Linked DNA regions of Homo sapiens: region 2 is linked to region 1. Evidence: fine-mapped expression QTL. A gene starts in region 1. The other region holds a variant in brackets. All regions are shown on one strand. Distances are between the middles of the regions. Region 1 holds the start of CXCR1 (C-X-C motif chemokine receptor 1). Region 2 has its middle 27 kb from the start of RUFY4.

What was found. PIP is the estimated chance that this variant, and not a neighbour inherited with it, causes the effect. A credible set is the group of variants that fine-mapping cannot tell apart.
Region 2: its variant is the best candidate, but not a certain one, in a credible set for the expression of CXCR1 in whole blood (TOPMed, PIP 0.68).

Annotation. Positions count from the first base shown.
Region 1 is chr2:218,164,650-218,170,036 of GRCh38, reverse strand. CXCR1 (C-X-C motif chemokine receptor 1) reads left to right here and starts at 3,075. Exons shown (of 2, transcript NM_000634.3): 1 at 3,075-3,129; 2 at 4,793-5,387. The coding sequence starts at 4,826.
Region 2 is chr2:218,093,683-218,099,069 of GRCh38, reverse strand. No RefSeq gene overlaps it. Among named protein-coding and RNA genes, the nearest start is that of RUFY4, 27 kb to the right of the region's middle. The variant A/G (reference allele first, on the strand shown) is at 2,626.

The sequences.
Region 1 (5,387 bases):
GTTTTTGCCATTTATGGTAGCAAAATGGCTGCTGACTGCAACAAGACTATATACTTGCTTTTCCACATTCATTGAGCAAACATCTGAACTTTGCTCTGACTGGATCATCTTGGGTCACAGACTCACTCCCTGAGCCTGTTGCTGTGGTTACGAGGACGTCACTGGGGAGAGAGGAGAAACCTCCCTCTACCCCTTTCCTCTACTTTGATCCCAGATCCAAGTGGATTCTTCTGGAGGAATGAGAAGAGATGCTGAAGCTGGCATAAGGCTGATGCAGGGACAAAATAGATGTTCTTACAGCCACATTGTGCTGTTCACATGGTCTGTGCAGAAGTCATCATGTTTAAAACAGAGTGGTAAGAAGATGTCACCCAAAGAGATACTACATTTTGCCAGTTGACTGGCATTCGGGCTGCACCTGTCACAGCTTTCTTTGTGGCATTAGGAGCTCTACATGGAATGGAAAAATGCTTCTCAGCAGGAACATTCTAGGCCATTTTAAGAGGGCACAGTTATAAGTGGGAAGTGAGGTATAGAAGATAGGTTGGGTGGGCTGACTTGCTGGAACATTTTGAAGTGGGTAAAATTTTATTCTAAACTCATCTATATGTGCTTTCTCCCTCCTTCAGTGAAATGCTCGTCCTACTGCGAAGTGAAAGGTTCTTTCCACCCTTGTCCTCCAGATGCAACTTCTCCTGGAGACCCCAGCATTGCTGTTGCCCTCACCACACTCATGCAGCAGGGCTGCTCCCCTTCACTCCTCGGGCTCCAGGAGACCAGCCTCTTCCCTAACCCCTCAGTGATTCCTTGAAATAGACTGGAATAGTGAACCGACTTACTGAGGGTTTAGGAAAAGCAGAAGGGAACTATACACCAAGAAGAACTTAACATACGGTGTTAAATATACCTGCTCTTGGCCCTGGTCTTTCTCAAGGGGGTGTCTCACAGGGGATTCCCTGTCTAGCAACTGCTGCCCCCTTGTGGCAAAAACTATCCTTCTCCCGGCCTCAGGGTCTTTCTTGAGTATAGGCAGGTGTTTTGCAGTCTAGGCCCCCGTCTTTTTTCTCCTGTGTCCCCAGTGACTATTTTCTGCCCTTGGGGCTGATTTTCCCTAGATGATTAATAGAGGGAGTCTCCCACCTCCTGGGACTACCCCATCTTTGACTCCTTTCTAGTCTAGGCGTTAGAGCACAATAGTCCAACATCAGTAAAAGCAAAGCATGAGTGGCTATTGTCCCCTTACACTTCCTGTTACCATCTATGAATGATAAAAGAGCCCAGGAGGAAAGCACAACTTAGCTTAAAAAATAGGCTTGCCGGCTGGGCATGGTGGCTTATGCCTGTAATCCCAGTGCTTTGGGAGGCAAAGGCAGGAGGATCACTAGAGGCTAGGAGTTCAAGATAAGCCTGGGCAGTATATCAGGACCCTTTCTCTACAAATAAATAAATAACTAAATAAAAAATAAAAATAAAAATATAATATAAAAAAAGAAAGCCAGATGTAGTGGCTCTTGCCTGTAGTCCCAGCTATTCAGGAGGTTGAGGTGGGAGGATTGCTTGAGCCCAGGCATTTGAGGTTACACTGAGCTATGATCACACCACTGCATTCTAGCCTTGGCAACACAGTGAGAGCCTGTCTCTTAAAAAAAGAAAAAAATTCTTTCCAGTGCAGAACTGTAGGAATCCATGGCATGGTAAATTTGGCATTTGTGGTAGGGCAGGATTTATACTTGCACAGACTGGCATTAGCTCCAAACATTAGAGGAAGGTTGGAAAGAAGCAATGCCAGGCAGACCAACTGGGCTGTGTGGAAGTGAAGCTATCAGGCATACCAGTGACTTTAGTGTGTAGCCAAAAGCAATAGACACTGAATCGTGGTGGTGACTTATGGTCCATGAATCACAGGAGAAATGTCTCCCTTCATTTATTCCACAACCATTGATTGAGCACCTACTATATTCCCTGAAAGAGAACATAAACATGAATTGAAGAAGGTTCTTGCTGTCTCATGGCTCCCAAGCTAGAAGAGGGCTGACTTGTAAATGCCTCACAGCAGGGTTCATGTTATATGGAGAAGTGACGAAGGTGCCAGAAGACTCAAGCTAGGGGACAGCCATTAGCTGCTGGAGGCAGCTAAGGTGGGTTCCCAGAGAAGCCATTCTCCGTTACTGAGATGGGGGCTGCAGTGACCTTGACCACAGCTCTTCCATTCATGGACTGCCCCAGCTCTGTGGTCTCTCTGCTAACCAGCCAGACTCTGGGAGTGGCCTATGCCGTCAGCCTCAGGGCCATTTAAACCAACTGGTCATTGGCAGTGATTGTGCGAAAGAGTGGCTGGCGGCAAAGGAGGGTTTGTGTTCCATTCAAATACCCTCAAAAAGCCTGAAAAATAAGTAGAGATTGAGGCCAGGCCTTGGAGTTGTGGAAGGTGGAGAACACTGGGAAGCCAACCTCCAAAGAAGACCAGGTTGGAGGCAAAGGAGGAAGGGGAGCTCTCGTTGGCAAACCAACAGGGAAGCCAAGGATATCCCAGTAACTGCTCTCACATCCTTGATGAGAATGCCTTGAATCCGAGCTAGGCCACCTCAAAGAAGCCTGCAAAATAAGTAGAGATTGAGTGCCTGCTGTTCAAACACAACTCAAGCGCAGTCCTCCTCCTCTTTCCCACTGGATTGCCCCCAAGTCCCTCCTATGGGGGACTCCTTCTGAAGTCTCTGCTGTAAGTCAAATCCTTCGCCCTTTATACTTGGTCAGGAAGTTGCAAGCTTCCACAGGTGATATACTAGGGAATTTAGGAATAAACAAATGGAAATAAATTCAAGAAAAGGAAAATAATAAAAATGATCATCCATAGAGTGGAGAATTCAGATAATGGACCCTCAACCCCAGCTTCACACCTGGGACCCCCACTTGGTCATATGGACCCTGGCAGTCTCTAATCACAAGTCTGTGATCCCTTGACTTAAACTGTTCTTCCCCAAATGTAGACATGGGTGGGGCTCAGAAGGGAGGTGTCATCTGATGTGGTTTCCTTATTTCCGTTTATTCATCAAGTGCCCTCTAGCTGTTAAGTCACTCTGATCTCTGACTGCAGCTCCTACTGTTGGACACACCTGGCCGGTGCTTCAGGTAGGAAGCCACCTCTGTTTGCTAGGACTTTCTGTGGGGTAGGGCTGCTTGGCTTGACTTTATTTTGGAAAATGTATTCATTTCTGTGGGAGCTGAGGATTTCTGCTGCCCGCTTCCTCTCTTGTGACCACCACTCATACATGGAGTTAGCAGGTGAAGAGGACAGCCTCCTCATCCCCTCTTTTTATACCTTGCCCTTTTGTGGGAAGAGGCTGACCATTCCCCAATTTGATGTTTATTGCTTCACCTTAAGACTTTGTCTTCAGTGAAAATGCAAATACTGGTAGGGAGGGAACACACTAAAATGTGTGGATCTGAGTGGACTCATCATACACCCTCAGGCCTGGCAGCAAATGAGAGGTGGATGATTCTGTCTTCCTCGATTTGCAGATGAGAAGACTGAAATCTATAGGGGTACGAGACCCCACTCAAGGTCATGAGACTTATTTATTTATTTATTTATTTATTTTGAGATGGAGTCTCACTCTGTCGCCTAGGCTGTAGTACTGTGGCACGATCTCGGCTCACTGCAACCTCCATTTCCCGGGTTCAAGTGATTCTCCTGCCTCAGCCTCCTGAGTAGTTGGGATTACAGGTGCACGCCACCACACCCAGCTAATTTTTTTGTATTTTTAGTAGAGACGGGGTTTCATCATTTTGGTCAGGCTGGTCTCGAACTCCTGACTTCATGATCTGCCTGCCTTGGCCTCCCAAAGGGCTGGGATTACACACGAAACTTATTAATGGTAGAATCAGGATGGAATGAAGACTGGATGCTAGGTGTCTTTACAACCAACCTCGGTGACTTTCCAAAGGCTTTCAGACTTCTCTGGAGAGTCCTGGAGCTTTGAGGGGCTCTTTAGGGGCCATCTGGGTTCGGAGATTAGCACACTCTGCCCCACAGTGGCTCAGCTTTTATCTGCTTCACATACTGGGCTTCTGGGAAGATCTTATTTCAGTAAACTATTTCACAATAGGAAATATATTTGAAAACTCTTGAATGATTCTGTGGATTTTTTCAGGGGTGGAGGGTTTCAGGGACCAAGATGGAGACTTTATCTTCTCAAATACTTAAAACTCCTTTAGACAGAGGAACAAAATATGTGCTCCTCATTTAAAGAAGGCTTAAAATATACAGTTTAATGCAATGTGTTGTTATCACTTCCTTCCCCCAGTAGATTTTAAGGAGGGTAAACAAGAATCAGGGAGAACATAGGAATAGAAATAGTAGAAGGGGACACCTGGGAACAGGTTTGCCTTCTTGCATTTTGCTTAATGCTGGCCCTTCCCTGAATGTCTAAGACCAACCTGGTCCCCACATCCAAATGCACAGACACAGCTGAGGATGGAGAAGGCTAAAGAGGGACAGAGGTAGAGACATAGGCTGAGAGGAGGCAGTTGTAGGTTGAGCTAGGGCTAAGGTGTTTTCCCCATATTCCATCTTACCCCACACTCAGGCCAGGCCTTAGAGTTGTGGAAGGTGGAGAACACTGGGAAGCCAACCTCCGAAGAAGACCAGGTTGGAGTCAAAGGAGGAAGGAGAGCTCTCATTGCCAAACCAACAGGGAAGCCAAGGATATCCCAGTAACTGCTCTCACATCATTGATGAGAATGCCTTGAATCCGAGCTACTAAATCACATTTCCTTCCTTCTAACCTTCCAGTTAGATCAAACCATTGCTGAAACTGAAGAGGACATGTCAAATATTACAGATCCACAGATGTGGGATTTTGATGATCTAAATTTCACTGGCATGCCACCTGCAGATGAAGATTACAGCCCCTGTATGCTAGAAACTGAGACACTCAACAAGTATGTTGTGATCATCGCCTATGCCCTAGTGTTCCTGCTGAGCCTGCTGGGAAACTCCCTGGTGATGCTGGTCATCTTATACAGCAGGGTCGGCCGCTCCGTCACTGATGTCTACCTGCTGAACCTGGCCTTGGCCGACCTACTCTTTGCCCTGACCTTGCCCATCTGGGCCGCCTCCAAGGTGAATGGCTGGATTTTTGGCACATTCCTGTGCAAGGTGGTCTCACTCCTGAAGGAAGTCAACTTCTACAGTGGCATCCTGCTGTTGGCCTGCATCAGTGTGGACCGTTACCTGGCCATTGTCCATGCCACACGCACACTGACCCAGAAGCGTCACTTGGTCAAGTTTGTTTGTCTTGGCTGCTGGGGACTGTCTATGAATCTGTCCCTGCCCTTCTTCCTTTTCCGCCAGGCTTACCATCCAAACAATTCCAGTCCAGTTTGCT
Region 2 (5,387 bases), 71 kb after region 1:
GATCCAATAAGATCAATTAGAAATGAAACTGGAGATATTACAACCGATCACACAGAAATACAAAAAATCAATCAAGGCTACTATGAACACCTTTATGTGCACAAACTAGAAAATCTAGAGGAAATGGATAAATTCCTGGAAACATACAATCCTCCTAGGTTAAATCAGGGAAAAATAGAAACTCTGAGCAGACCAATAATAAGCAGTGAGATTGAATCAGTAATAAAAAATTGCCAACCCAAAAAAGTCCAGGAACAGATGGATTCACAGCTGATTTCTACCAGGCATTCAAAGAAGAATTGGTACCAGTCTTACTGAAACTATTCCAAAAGATAAAGAAAGAAGGAATTCCCCCCCACACCCCAATCACTGTATGAAGCCAGTGTCACCCTAATACCAAAACCAGGAAAGGACATAACAAAAAATGAAAACTATAGACCAATACCCCTGATGACTATAGATACAAAAATCCTCAATAAAATACTAGCTAACCAAATCCAACAGCACATCAAAAATATAATACATCATGATCAAATGGGTTTCATCCCAGGGATGCAGGGATGATTTAACATACACAAGTCAATAAATGTGATACATCACATAGATAGAATTAAAAAGGAAAACCATATGATCATCTCAATAGACACAAAGCATTTAATAAAATCCAGCACCCTCAACAAAATAGGCATAGAAGGGACTTAGCTCAAAGTAATAAAGCCATTATATGACAAACCCACAGCCAACATCATACTGAATGGGGAGAAGTTGAAAACATTCCCCCTGAGAACTGGAATAAGACAAGGATGCCCACGTTCACCACTCCTATTCAACATAGTACTGGAAGTCCCAGCCACAGCAATCAGACAAGAGAAAGAAATAAATGGCATCCAAATTGGAAAAGAGGAAGTCAAACTGTCACTGTTCACTGCTGATATGATCGTATACCTAAAAAACCCTAAAGACTCATCCAGAAAGCTCCTAGATCTGATAAATGAATTCAGTAAAGTCTCAGGTTATGAAATCAATGTACACAAATCAGTAGCACTGCTATCTACCAACAACGACCATGCTGAGAATCAAATCAAGAACTCAATCTCTTTTATGACAGCTGCAAAAAATAAAATAAAATACCTAGGAATACGCTTAACCAGGGAGGTGTAACATCTCTACAAAGAAAACTACAAAACACTGCTGAAAAATCATAGATTACACAAACAATTGGAAACACTCCCCATGCTCATGGATGGAAAAATTAATATTGTGAAAATGACCATACTGCCCAAAGCAATCTACAGATTCAATGCCATTCCCATCAAAATACCATCATCAGTCATCATAGAAATAGAAAAAAAATCCTGAAATTTGTATGGAACCAAAAAAGAGGCCACAAAGCCAAAGCAAAACTAAGCAAAAAGAATAAATCTGAAGACATCACCTGACTACAAATTATACTACAAGGCTACAATTACCAAACAGCATGGTACTAGTATACAAATAGGCATGTAGACTAAGGGAACAGAATAGAGAACCCAGCAATAAAGCCAAATGCAGCTATCTGACCTTTGATAAAACAAACAAAAACATAAATTGAGTAAAGGACATTTCAATAAAAGGTGCTGGGAAACCACATGTAGAAGAATGGAACCGGATCCCCATCTCCCACCATATACAAAAATCAACTCAAGATGGATCAAAGACTTTAAATCTAGGACCTGAAACCATAAACATTCTAGAAGATAACTTTGGAAAAACTCTTCTGGATATTGGCTTAGGCAAAGAATTTATGACTAAGATCCCAAAAGCAAATGCAATGAAAACAAAAATAAATAAATGGGACCTAATTAAACTAAAAGGCTCCTGCATAGCAAAAGAAATAACCAGCAGAGTAAACAGACAGCCCAGAGTGGGAGAAAATATTAGCAAACTGTGTATTCAGACAAAGGACTAGTATCCAGAATCAAGGAACTCAAATCAGCAAAATAAGCATCTGACAAAGGACTAGAATCTAGTATCTAGAATCTACAAGGAACTCAAACAAATCAGCAAGAAGAAACCAAATAATCCTGTCAAAAAGTGGGCAAAGGACATGATTACACATTTCTCAAAATAAGATATACAAACAGCCAACAAACATGAAAAAATGCTCAACATCACTAATCATCAGGGAAATGCAAATGAAAACTGGAATGAGATGCCACCTTACTCCTGCAAGAATGGCCATAATTCAAAAGTCAAAAAAACAATAGATGTTGGCATGGATGTGGTGAAAAGAGACCACTTTTACACTGCTGGTGAGAATGCAAAGTACAACCACTATGGAAAACAGTGTGGGGATTTCTTAAAGAACTAAAAGTGAAACTACCATTTGATCCAGCAATCCCACTACTGGGTATCTATCCAAGGGAAAAGAAGTCATTATGTGAAAAGCACACTTGCACACACATGTTTATAGCAGCACAATTCACAATTGCAAAGATATGGAACCGACCTAAATGCCCATCAACCAATGAGTGGATACAGAAAATGTGGTTTATATACACCTGAAGGGGTGGCCTGCCCCTCCACACCTGTGGGTATATCTCTTCAGGTGGGATGAGAGACTGAGAAAAGAAATAAGACACAGAC[A/G]CAAATTATAGAGAAAGAACAGTGGGCCCAGGGGACCGGCGCTCAGCATACGGAGGACCCACACCAGCACTGGTCTCTGAGTTCCCTCAGTATTTATTAATTACTATTTTCACGATCTCAGCAAGAGGAATGCGGTAGGAGAGCAGGGTGATAGTGGGGAGAAGGTCAGCAAGAAAACATGTGAGCAAATGAATCTGTGTCACAAATAAGGTTAAGGGAAGATACTATGCCTAGATGTGCACATAGGCCAGATTTATGCTTCTCTCCACCCAAACATCTCAGAATAACAGAGCAGCATTGCTGCCAACATGTCTCGCCTCCTGCCACAGGGCAGTTTTTCTCTTATCTCAGAATTGAACAAATGTACAATCGGGTTTTATACTGAGACATTCCGTTTCCAGGGGCAGGCAGGAGACAGAGGCCTTCTTCTTATCTCAACTGCAAGAGGCCTTCCTCTTTTACTAATCCTCCTCAGCACAGACCTTTCGCGGGTGTCGGGCCGGGGGACAGTGTGGTTTTTCCCATCCCATAAGGCCATATTTCAGACTATCACATGGGGAGAAATCTTGGATGATACCCGGCTTTCCAGGGCAGAGGTTCCTGCGGCTTTCTGCAGTGCATTGTGCCCCTGGTTTATCGAAACCGGAGAATGGCGATGACTTTTACCAAGCATACTGCCTGTAAACATTTTGTTAACAAGGCACATCCTACACAGCCTTAGATCCCTTAAACCTTGATTCCATACAACACATGTTTTTATAAGCTCAAGGTTGGGGCAAAGTTACAGATTAACAGCATCTCAGGACAAAACAGTTGTTCAGGGTACAGGTCAAAATGGAGTTTCTTATGTCTTCCTTTTCTACATAGACACAGTAACAGTCTGATCTCTCTTTCTTTTCCCTACATACACCATACAATACTACTCAGCCATAAAAATGAACAAAATAATGTCTTTTGCAGCAACTTGGATAGAGCTGGAAGCCGTTATTCTAAGTAAAGTAACTCAGGAATGGAAAACCAAATATCATATGTTCTCATTTATAAGTGGGGGCTAAGCTATGAGGATGCAAAGGCCTAAGAGTGATATAGCAGATTTTGGTGATGCAGGGAAGAAGGTTGGGAGGGAGGTGAGGGATAAAAGATTACATATTGGGTACAGTGTACACTGCTTGGGTGACAGGTGCATAAAAATCTCTCAGAAATCACCTCTAAAGAACTTATCCATGTAACAGAAAACCACCTGTACCCCAAAACTATTGAAACAAAAAAGAAACACACAAACACACAAAACTTTTAATATGACAAAACAAAGCATGCATATTGTAAAGAATACAAGCAATAAAAAAGCACAAAAGCATATAAAGCACAGCTGGAAAGTCTCTCTTCCGTTCCTCTGTTCACCCATATCTTTTCCTCAGATAACTACTGTCTACAACTTGGTGTGTACATTTTCCTGGAATTCTCTCTATGCAAATACAAACATGTTTTCCTTCCTTCTTTTCTTAATAAAAAAGATATATCTACTATATCATATATATGTATATATCTCACCTCAAGTGATCCTGCCATCTTAGCCTCCTGTATATCTGGGATTACAGGTGTGAGCCACTGGGCCCAGCTGAATTAGTTATTCTTATCTGTTTCCCTTTTGCTTTGGATTGTTATTTTGTTATTTTTTTTTGGCCTCAAGTGATTCTCTTGCCTCTGCCTCTCAAAGTGTTGGGATTACAGGCATGAGCCACTGCGCATGGCAAGAAATAAAATTTTTTTTTTTTTGGAGACAGAGTCTCACTCTGTTGCTCAGCCTGGAGTGCAATCTTGGCTCACTGCAACCTCTGCCTTCCAAATTCAAGCCATTCTCATGCCTCAGCCTCCCGAGTAGATGGGACTACAAGTGTTCACCACCACTCCTGGGTCATTTTTGTAATTTTAGTAGAGACAGGGTTTCACGCCATGTCGGCCAGGCTGGTCTCGAATCCCTGGCCACCCACCTCGGCCTCCCAAAGTGCTGGGACAGGCGTGAACCACCATGCCCAGCCTTGGATTGTTATTTTGTTATTGATTGATTTTGTTACTGATTTGTAGGAGCTCTTTATATAATTATGTTTTGAATATTTGTCAATTATGTTAAGATATTTTCTTCCTGCCTGCTGTATGCTTTTCATCTTTATTTATGGTGGAAAGTTACCGTTCAGGTCTTACTTGATCTCTATATCACTGAATCCCACTAACCCATTCTCCTCTATTCCCCTTGACCTCTCTTGTCTTGTTTATTGCTCTATTTCTTAACTTATTCCTCAAATATTGAGGTTCCTGAGGATTCTACTTTGGTTTTCTTCTCTTTTCACTCTACTGCCCCCTCTTGGTGAGTCCACTGGTTTTCATGGCTTCAGCTGCCATCCGACATGTGCCAGAGTCTCCCATAGCTACTGCTCCCAACAAGTGTCTCCCCTAAGCTCCAAACTCTGACATGCAATTATCTCCTTAAATCTCCCTGAGGGCCTACAGATTTTGCAAATTCAGCATGTAGAAAACTAATCTCATTGTATTTCCTGACACGTCTTTCTCCTGAGTGGTTCCTTGTTCAATCATCTGCCAAACCAGAAATGTACCTGCTCCTTACTCTTCCTCTCCTTAAGAACACTCCTGACTATCTCCTCCTCACCATCTTCACTGAGAGTGTTAGGCAATACTTTATTCTCTCTCACTTCACCTAAGGCAATGGTCATGCAAAGTTGTGGGTTCCAGACTGGGCTGTGTGA